Homo sapiens: one gene and its partner. The protein of the gene in region 2 interacts with the protein of the main gene of each other region in a pairwise test. Each region holds a gene or a part of one and is shown on either strand. Other genes may lie near its edges.

Region 1 (7,000 bases), on a different chromosome or scaffold from region 2:
TGTTTTTCACTAGGCAAGCTTTTTTACTTCTGAAAACAGGACAGATATTTCTCTGGGTGTCCTCAACTTTCGGCAAAAGTGGGCCTAAAAAACTTGACTACAGGTGAATCTGCTCAATGGCAAGGTGAGCATGTTCTTCCTTTGGGGAGGGGGGTTGGGGGCGGGGACACTCACAGCCCTCTGGGCAGTACTCCACGCTGTAGCCATCCAGGCCTCCTGCTCCCACGCGCTCTGGGGGCCGCCACTTGAGGGAGACCGTGGTGTCAGAGACGTCCTCTACTGCCAGGTGGGTGGGTTCGCTGGGGGGACCTGGGCAGAGGAGAGGTCAGAGAGGGGTCTGAGCAAGCCTGGGGAAGCTGGAGATCCATGCCCTAGACTCTGAACTGCCCACTGGTCACATAGGGGGCACTTCCTGTTCAGCTGGCTTTTGGCCACTTTAAGGAATATTTTGTCCCTGTTACAAGACATGTCTGTAGATTGGCTTAAAAACAAACAGCAACAGCAGCCAGGCACGGTGGCTCACGCCTGTAATCCCAGCACTTTGGGAGGCCGAGGTGGGAGGATCACCTGAGGTCAGGAGTTCAAGACCAGCCTGGCCAACATGGTGAAACTCCGTCTCTACAAAAATACAAAAATTAGCTGGGCATGGTGGTGGATGCCTGTAATCCCAGCTACTCAGAAGGCTGAGGTGGGAGAATTGCTTGAACCTGGGAGGTGAAGGTTACAGTGACCCCAGATCGCGCCAGGACTGCACTCCAGTCTGGGTGACAGAGCGAGACTCCATCTCAAAAAAAAAAAAAAAAAAAAAAAACTAAAACTAAAACTACAGAAAACATGGGAATTTCCTGGCACGTATGATTAGGTGAGTTGACTAAGAACTGAACAAACCAGGAATCAGTCCCTAAAACGAGAGGCCTGGACCCTTCTCCCCACAGGCCCCGATTCCTGCCATCTTCCCAAGCTGTGCCCCATCCCTGGGCCCAGGGGTCCTTGGCCTGCCCTTGCCACAGGCAGCTGCCCCCGGACTCACCCACCCTAGTGGGAACAGGTGTCCTCCTGAGCCCTGCCACAGTCTCAACACCTGTTCTGCCCACTCAGACCCCATTATACAGATGAGGAAGCTGAGGCTTCAGGGAGGGATGACTCCAGTTGGCCCCCCGGGGACCATGGAGCTGCCTCTGCCATCTCTGAGTCTTGGTCCAGGACTCTTTCCACAGACAGATGCCCCTGAGACCCCTCCACTAACTACAGCCCTTGCCCCATCCCATAGGTGAAAACCCTGGGTTGAAGGGTGTGGAGAACAGGGGACAATGAACATTTATTGAGCACCTGTTAGATGCCAGATGGCCTGCCTGGTCATCCCATATCATCCTAACAGCTCTCTGAGATAGGCAGTGTCATTATTCCCATTTTGTAGACATGGAAAGAGAGGCTTGAAACGTGAACTAGGGGTCGGCGTAGTGTGAGAGTCAGCTCCACCCCAACCAGCTGGGAGATCTCAAGCAGGTCATTTAACTGCTTGGAGCCTGTTTCCTCATCTGTAAAATGCGGCTGAGTATCCCCAGTCGAGGATGAAAGGAGACTGTGGATGTGAGTGTCTAGCATGGCTGCCTGCAGAGCACCTGCTATTATTGGAGGTTTTTAACTGGGGAGGGGGCGGGGGGCAGGACCAGGCCAGGCAGGCTCACCGATAGGCATGAAGGGCTGGGAGGCAGGGCTGGGCCTGGACATGCCGATGGCGTTGACCGCGTAGACGCGCATCTCGTACACCACGCCCTCGATCATGCGCCGCGCTTCATGACTCAGCTCCTGAATCAGGTCGAAGTTCAGCCGCATCCACCGGTAGCTCTTCTTCTTCTTGCGCTCCAGGATGTAGCCTGGCTCAGGGGAGGTGGCAGCTCTGGTCTGGAACCCAGGCATCCCCACACCACCTTCCCTCGGATCTGTTTGGCGCCCTCACACCTCCATCCGGTGCCCTTGCACTCACCCAGGATGGGCTGCCCGCCATCGTAGGCAGGCGGCTCCCACTGTACTGTGCAGGAGTCCTCTCCCACGTTGCTGATCTTGGGGGCCGCAGGTGCGTCTGGCACGTCTGGATGGGGTGGGATGGACCCACATCAGCCCTGCCCCGCTCAGGGCCTTGAGTAACGTTGCTCGTCCCCTTCCCACTCCAACTAACCGCCACAGGCTGCCCCCACCACCCCCAGATCCAAAGAGATCTTTCTAGAATGCATTTCTTTCTTCTTTTCCTTTTTTTTTTTTTTTTTTTAGTGATATGGAGTCTCACTGTGTTGTCCAGGCTGGGTCTCAACAGGATGCATTTCTGATCATGTCGCCAGCCCTCCGTCAACCCTTTAAGGCTTCTCACTGCCCATATTCACCCCTGTCCTGGCTCTGATCCTCCCAACCCCACCCAGTCCTCTCCTGACATGTTTCATTCATTCTCCACACCCAAAAGGCCCTTTCCCTCCTCCACCCCTTTGTACACAGTTTCCTCTGCCTGGGATGCCTTTCCTCACCATCTTCTCAGCCTCCTAAAGGCATCACCCCCAGGCACAGGGATGGCTCTCTGCTCAGTGCTCCCACGGCACTCTGGACATGGCTCATGTACAGCAGTGTCGCAGGAAATCTGCTGGATGCATCTGCCTCCATCTCCCCCAGAGCGGGGCTCCTTTTGGGCAGAAAAACCTGTCCTGTTGCCGCTCGGCTCAGGGAGCATGCCCGTGATGTTTGTCGAGTGGCTGAATGAGCGAACGGATGGGCCCTCCTTGGGGCTGCCCCTCTGTGTTCTCCAGCTTGGACCCCGGCCGGCCTCACCGATGACCTTGACTGTGAGGTTGACCTGGTCCTCGCCCACAGGGTTCTTCACTGTGACCGTGTAGACGCCCTCATCTTCCTTCTCTGCCCCCTCGACCGTGAAGATGCTGCGGTCCTTGGTGGTCTCCACGCGGACCCGGCCCTCGGTCTCACACAGCAGCTGGGGGGGTGCAGAGTTGGGGTGAGATCCAAGTCAGACCCCAGAGGCCCTTGCAGCCTCCGCCAACAGCCAGATGTCCCGGGGGTCCATGGGGGGAACACAGCCTGTGGGAAGACTGCATCCACGTCAGCATCTAGTTCAAAATCATCTCTGTGGCACCGACTGAGGGCAGGGGCTCGGGTTCTAGCTTTGTCACGGGACCTGGGGCAACCACCTGTCCTCTCAGATGAGCTATCATGAGGACCCCTCAAGACCCCAGCCTTCAGAAGAACCAACAGTGCCAGGCAGGAGCAAGACCCCGGCAGCTACACTGGCAGAAAAGTGTCTCAGAAACTACTCCTGAGTTGAGAGGGAGCACAAGGTCAAGGTCAAGGTCAGCTTAGGATGAAGGGAGCCAGGGAGCAGCCCAGTCATGAGGGCTTCCTGGCAATGAGAGGGTGTCCACATCCTTGTGATGGCCATCAGCACACTTCACAGAGACCCTCTGCCTGAGGTGTGAGGGCCCCACAGGGACCCTGCTGGGGGCAGCAACACACCCGGCCAAGTGTGGCACCTCCATGGAGACCTCGCCAAGGGCTCGGCACCACGTAGGTAGAAAGTGATGAAAGACAAACGAGCCTCCTCCTGACCTCAGTCTCACTCACCTTCTTGTCAAACACCCACTCATCGCTGTCACCTGTGTCCTCTGGGGCATCTGGGGCTGGCCTGGCTGGGGCCTTATTCCCCTGGGAACAGGGCAGGAGGGAAGTAGGGAGCAGAGGAGCTGACTCAGCCTGGAAGCGCCCCTCTGCTGCTTCTTCCACCCCCTGACCCACACTGCCCACCTTGCCTGCCCCCTGACCAGTCTCTCCCATGGGGTAGCCAACAGCAGGGCGTGCACATGTGGGTGGGGTGTGCAGCAGGTCCTAGCACTTGGCTGGTTCCACACACCCATCTTATAGATGGGGAGACTGAGGAGGGACCCACAGTACCTGCGTGATAGCCTTCTGCCAGATCACAGTGGGAGCAGGGTCCCCAGAGATAGGGACGTCCAGACGTAGCTTATTTCCAGCTACAACCACAATGGTGTCTGGTATGCGGCCTGGGCAGTCCAGGTGGATCTTGGGAGGTTCTGCAGAAGACACAATGTAGTTCAGAGAAACGGGAGAGCCAGGAGGAGCACAGGTCACTGGGGCGGGGCTGCTCAAGAGCCTGGGCCCCTGGTTATTGGTTTTTTAGATTTGTATTGAGGTATAGTTTATGCTCAGATCTGACAGTAGGCTGAGTTCTGACAGATGAATACACCCATGCAATTATTAATCCAACCAAGATCTGGAACATTCCCATCACCCCAGGACGTTGGCTGGGAGGCTTGTAATATTCAGGTCAGGTCACCTAGCATAGCATTTTGAAAACTGGGGGAACATCAGTGTCTTGCCACACACATACACACACACACAATACACACACACACACGCATATACACATACACACAGACACACATACACATACACACATGCACACACAGACACACACATGCACACAGACACAAATACACATACATACACGCACACACACAGACACAGACACACATATATACATACACACACAGACACATGCACACACACACACGCGCGCACACATGCACGCACACATGCACACATTAAAAAGGTTCCCTGGCCAAATAAATCAGGAATCTGCCCTCAGTTAAACAAAGCAAAGCAGTCTGGACGCAGTGGCTCACGCCTGTAATCCCAGCACTTTGGGAGGCCGAGGCAGGCAGATCATGAGATCAGGAGATCGAAACCATCCTGGCTAACATGGTGAAACCCCGTCTCTACTAAAAATACAAAAAATAATTAGCTGGGCATGGTGGCGGGCGCCTGTAGTCCCAGCTACTCAGGAGGCTGAGGCAGGAGAGTGGTGTGAACCTGGGAGGCGGAGCTTGCAGTGAGCCGAGATCGCGCCACTTCTCTCCAGCGTGGGCGACAGAGGGAGACTCCGTCTCAAAAAAAATAAAAATAAAAAAAAAGGAAGAAGAAGAAAAGATGTAATAATAACAGTCACACATGTGACAGCACTTGACAGGTCTGATACATCATGTCACCTCATCTTTATAACTATCCTATGAGGTGGCACTATCAGGGTTCCCATTTTAGAGAAGAGGAAACTGAGGCTCACAGAGATTATAATTGACCCATGGTCATGAGTGGCAAAGCTGAAGCTGGGCCCCAGGACCCCCACTTTTGATCCTTGCTCTTCCCTCTGTGAGTGGAGGGGAGGCCTGCGTGGGTGGGTTGCGGGAAAGTGAGCAGAACCAAGACTCAGGGGCCCCAAGACTTACCCTGCCTGGGTACGAAGTCAATCTTGACCTCTGCAAGAGAAGGAAGAGCAAGTAGCACGGGGGCAAAGGCAGGGCCCAGTGACAGGGGCTCCTGGCCCCACTGCCCCGACCCACCCTACCCTGGAGCAGGCTCACCCATGAAGTGGAGCTTGGCTGACAGGTTGCAGGCGAAGCCCTCGGGCACAAAGCTGTAGTCAGCCTCGTCGGCAGGTGTGACGTCGTCAATGGTCAGTTTGTGGACCCTGCAGGGGAGCAGTGGCTCAGGGGACCCCACTGGGCCACACACCCCTGGCCTTGCCAGATACCCCAGCCAGGGTCCCAGGAGGCCCTCACCTTGTCCTGGCTTGTTGGTATTCTGATTTTTAAAAATGCCTTTTTTTTTCTATATTATCTAATTTTCCAGCTTTTTAATGTGCCTTCAGAGGTAGGCAGCGTAAAAGTGATTTCTACATCAAAGCATCTCCTTGGCTGGGCCCTTGGAGACTGGGCAGGGGCTGGGTCTCATTAATCTCTGTGAACTTGGGCCCAGCACGGCCAGCCCAGTTGCTCCAGGGATGAGCAAGAGGGCGGGAGAGGCAGTGAGGGCCTCTGGCCAGAGCCGGCCTCCTTGGTGGCCTCCTGCCCTGCCCTGGTCACAAGCTGGGGGAGGGTGCTGGGGAGCGCTCGACCCCGTCCGTGTCTCTCCCTGCTGCCTCTTTGTCTCTGTCCCTCTGTTCTTCTCTGTCTCTGACGAACTCTCCTATGTGTGTGCCTCCCTGTGCATATCTTTCTGTCTCTATAGAACTATTTCTGTCTTTCTGTCTCTTTGTCTTTTTGGGTCTGTCTGTTTCTCCCTCTCTGTGGGTCTCTGTCTCAGTCTCTGTCCTGTCTCTGTGCATCTGCCTCTCTGTCCACCTGTCTTTATCTCTCTCTCTCTGTTTCTCCCTGTGTCTCTCTCTGTCTCCATCTCAGTCTCCACCTGTCCCATCCACCTGCCCTGCACACTCACCGCCCGATGTGGGACACCTTTATGCGGCTGTCGGGCACCAGCTCCTTCCCATTCTTCAGCCACACACCCCGAACATTCTCATCTGAGACCTCACATTTGAACACCGCCTGGTCCTTTGCGCCCACCATCAGGTCTGCGATGCTCTGGTACACCTCCAGCTTCTTTTCTGCAGGGCAGGGCAGAGCCATTGAGCTCGGGAGGGTGTGTGGGTGTGGCGTGAATCCCTGTGGAGGGCGTGTGGGCCCATGGGCGCTGGTGCGCACGTGTCTGGGTGCATGTGGGCATGTGAAAACACGTGTGCCTGTGTGTGCCATGTTTGCCTGTGATGGTGCAGTGCACATAAGGAACCTCAAGTGTCTGAGGGGTGGTGATGCTCACCAGGCCCGTATGACCCTCTCAGTACCCTCTGGAGCGGTCACCTCAGCATCGTCATTTTAGAGATGAGAAGGATGAGGTTTAGGCTGTCAAAGGCCCAAGGTCACAGAGGCCTTGAGCCCAGGTTTGCCTGCTCCCCTACAGGGCTAGGTGGGGTGGGGGCTGAGGGGTCCAAGCCCTAAAGCCTCATGTGCCCCCCCAGCCAGGCTCACCCTGCACAATGAGCTCAGCCAGCGCCTGGCCCCCGCTAGTGCACAGTGCATAGTGCCCCGCGTCCTCCAGCATGGCCTCGTTGATGATCAGGTGGTGTCTCTGCCCGTCCTTCTTGAACCGGTAT
Region 2 (3,380 bases):
TGGGACTATCATGTCGCTTTCTGCATAATTTTTCATTCATTTAGTTCGAGCTGTACTGGCTCCTTCAATTCAGAACTCCTCAGGCTTCTTCAGGCAGCCTGGGCCTTGCAGTGGACTCATGAAGGTTCTTGTCTCTCCCCTTCCCCTCTCTCCTCAGGTGCTCAAATACGCAATCAACCACCAGTTCCTGTGTTTGCAAACTTCCCACTTTGAGACTTCCAACTGTAAGACTGTATATTGTCTTAATGGACTAAGAGTGAGAATGATGTCATAATGGGGACCATCTTTTCCAAGGGACAGGTGAGTCCCCCCTCTCCATCCTCATCCAAGAGTGGGCCCCAGGGTTCTCCTGCCCCCTTTCCTGCAAACTTTCCTCAGATGTGAGGAAACTTCCAACTTTCTCTAAATATAAAAAAAAAAAAAAAATCACATCTGTTAATAGACCTTTTAAAAAAGCCCAGCTAGGCAAGGCTGCCCAGGAACACCAGAGACACCAAAAGAACAGGAAGAAATATGCCTTTTATTAGGAGTTGCATATGTACAGAGAAAGCTGTTTCTCACAGCTCAGGGGAGGCTGTGAGAAAGAGCCACTGTCATCCAAGGTCACTGCGCGTACACTGGTAACACCACTTAGACACCGCCGCACGTGATTAAGAAACAGAACCATGACACAGAAATGCAGAAGAGACACGGGTACGTGTGTGGACACATCATTTCTAAAAACAAGTCAACACAAAAATACAATGTGCCAATAAAAAAAAAATAGACATATCCATACATGTCTTTTTTTCTGTTTTTAAAGTAAATACATGGTATGCTGAGCTTTCACCTCCAGCTTTTTCCACATCGGGATTCACAGGCACTTTAGCACCCCAGCCATGGTTTACAATACAGGATGTTCAGAACAATGAAGGAAGATGGGAGCCACCGAGATCCCCGAGACCCACACACACACTCTAATACTGACGCGAGAGTGAGCTTCCTGCCACCACCGCTGTGGGACCCGAAAATGTTCTCTGTGTGATGTGTAACGGCTTTTCCTTTGTCTTTTATGTTTCATGGCAGAACTACTTAGGAGCGCGGCATCGCCAGTCAGACATGCAGTGTGTGGATGCATTAGACAAGCATCAATTGCCTCTGACTTGAAAAACCGTAGAGAGCAGATCAAAATGACTGTCTGGTTTATCTCTGTCCCATTCTGTGCCCTTCCTGACAAGCTGTCAGAACAAAAACTAATTAAAATAATTACTAGGATGTACTGGGCCATGAGCTCTTCCTAGGAGAATTTCTTTCTTAGCTCTCCCCTCATGATAGACACAGGGCCAATGGCAGGCCCAGCTTCCCCCGGCAGGAGCCACTCCTGTCTCCCACGTTCCCCACACAGAGCTGTGGTGACTCAACCCACGTGTCAGGAACAGGACCGAACAAGCGTATGTATAAACGCAGACCAGGATCATCACTTTATTGGTAATGTTGAGTCATAAGGCAGTTACAAAAGGACCCCCATGGTGACCAAACAATGTTGGACTATGGCTTAGCTTCTGTAATAGGATGACCGACTCTCCCGTCACAAAGAGCTGAGAAAGGAAAGAGAAAACCACAGTGATGACAAAGTACGACAAATGGCTGTGCTGTGAAGTACCAGAAAGCCCCAATTTTTGGTGTATGTCGCCCACTTTTCCTCCACCAGAGACTAAGATGTCATCCCATAGCTAAGAGAACTTAGAGGGAGAAACAGGGCCGCACGTCATCCTCCACTTCAGGTGAATTTGTCACTGCAAGTGGTGCAGGGATGTTACAACCAAGCCGCGGACAACTCATGAGTAGGGCCGAGATTCCTGGTACTGTGGAGAGGCGCAGAGCATATGAACACCTCAAACAGATGATTGTCACAGGGTGGGAAATCCTTCCATGAAACAGACACTTGAGACATAGTGGCAAAGACATTAAGGCCTTCCATTTCTTTGCCTACACCGCTTAAAGGCACTGATACCAACAACAGAAATACTCCATAGTACCATCGAGGTTTTAAAAAAACTCCCAAAATACAAGTCTTCATAGGAAAATGTCTTTTATTGCGCGACATGAAGCATCCGTTATTTGCGTGCTCAGGAATAGAAGGGCCTCCCTTTCTCAGGAGTCTGAAGTCTGTTCAGCCTCGCAACCTGAGAAGGGGAGGGGGGCACATCTTGCCGGAAGGGCCCCTTGGGAGGGGCGTAACTGGGGTCCTGGACTTTCTTATACGAGTCATAGTTGCTGGGCCCCTCGGAAGGAGGCTGCTTCTTCATCTGCTGCTCCTTCCGCCTCTGTTCCTGGCGAAGGAGCTCCTGAGTTTCCAGCATGACCCTGGCGTTGAAGCCATGTCCTCCCAGGTAGCCGTTCCTGGAGCCTTGGTAGCTGGAGTACCTGGGGTTCTCTTTGGCACTCTGGAAGCCTTCCCCAGGGGAGTAGTTCTGCTCCCAAGAGTCCTGGGAGACCGAGCTGGCATTTTTCCTGCTTTGCCTAGAAAGCAAAACCCAAAGGTTAGTGTGAGGGTAGGAAGAAGGAGGGAGAGGGAGGAAAGGGGGCAGGATGGGATGGAATATGCATTTTCACTTTTCAACAAATATTCCTGTTCTCTCATCACATGCCAGACACTGCGATAGGGGCTGGAGAATTCAAAAATGACTGTCCTCAGCAAGCGCATAGTCTTAGACAACTAAACTAACAACGAGTAAACAGGAGAGAGAACTAGACTGTGCAGCTATTTAGAAACAGGGTCATCCTCCTGTGTCTGAGAAGGTTGTGTCTGTTCTGCTTAGGGTACCAATATCTCCTGCAATTTAGACACACTGGCAAAGTATAGAAGTATTAGAGGTTTGGCAGCTTCCATGGTAGGAATAATTGCTCGCTTTAGAACATTACAATTCAATTCTAAACAAGCACAACAAATATTTTACACAGCTGCCACCATAATGCCAGAAGCGCTAGCTAATATGAAGTACATGTAATGGATTACAGTATGAGTTCGGTTATGAAAGATTTAAGTCTAGACTCCTTTATGATAAAAAATGCAACAGGCAGTCCCTTAAAGCTCTGGCTTTCAAGTTGTGTATGTCAGCAACTTACACTCTCCGGGATACCTGCTCATCCAGATTGGACGGAGAGTCCGGAAGTCTGTAAAGTAAGCACTATTTTCTTATACATTTACCTTCACCAAAGGCCAGGGTGACCTACTTAACTTGCTTTCTGTCACCCCAGGATAGGCAAGTAAATCAGAGTCACATGGAAATTTCAAATTCTTCCCACTTCTGCAACAGAGTTGGGCATGATTTCCAGGAAACATTATTGTTTTGAAACATCTTTAATTTACTATCAAGTCTCTAGATGGTTTTATGAAT

What was found.
Region 1: the proteins of PARD3 (region 2) and MYBPC3 interact in a two-hybrid assay, tested with the Homo sapiens proteins (one study listed by IntAct).

What each region holds. Positions count from the first base shown.
Region 1 is NC_000011.10:47,335,703-47,342,702, forward strand, and holds part of MYBPC3 (myosin-binding protein C, cardiac-type), read right to left. Parts: coding exon 6,876-7,000; intron 6,455-6,875; coding exon 6,289-6,454; intron 5,543-6,288; coding exon 5,436-5,542; intron 5,331-5,435; coding exon 5,301-5,330; intron 4,089-5,300; coding exon 3,949-4,088; intron 3,703-3,948; coding exon 3,622-3,702; intron 2,978-3,621; coding exon 2,818-2,977; intron 2,093-2,817; coding exon 1,988-2,092; intron 1,878-1,987; coding exon 1,689-1,877; intron 310-1,688; coding exon 175-309; intron 1-174. UniProt on the Homo sapiens protein: Thick filament-associated protein located in the crossbridge region of vertebrate striated muscle a bands. In vitro it binds MHC, F-actin and native thin filaments, and modifies the activity of actin-activated myosin ATPase.
Region 2 is NC_000010.11:34,109,061-34,112,440, forward strand, and holds the end of PARD3 (partitioning defective 3 homolog), read right to left. Parts: intron 2,503-3,380; coding exon 2,109-2,502; 3' UTR 501-2,108; downstream 1-500. UniProt on the Homo sapiens protein: Adapter protein involved in asymmetrical cell division and cell polarization processes. Seems to play a central role in the formation of epithelial tight junctions. Targets the phosphatase PTEN to cell junctions.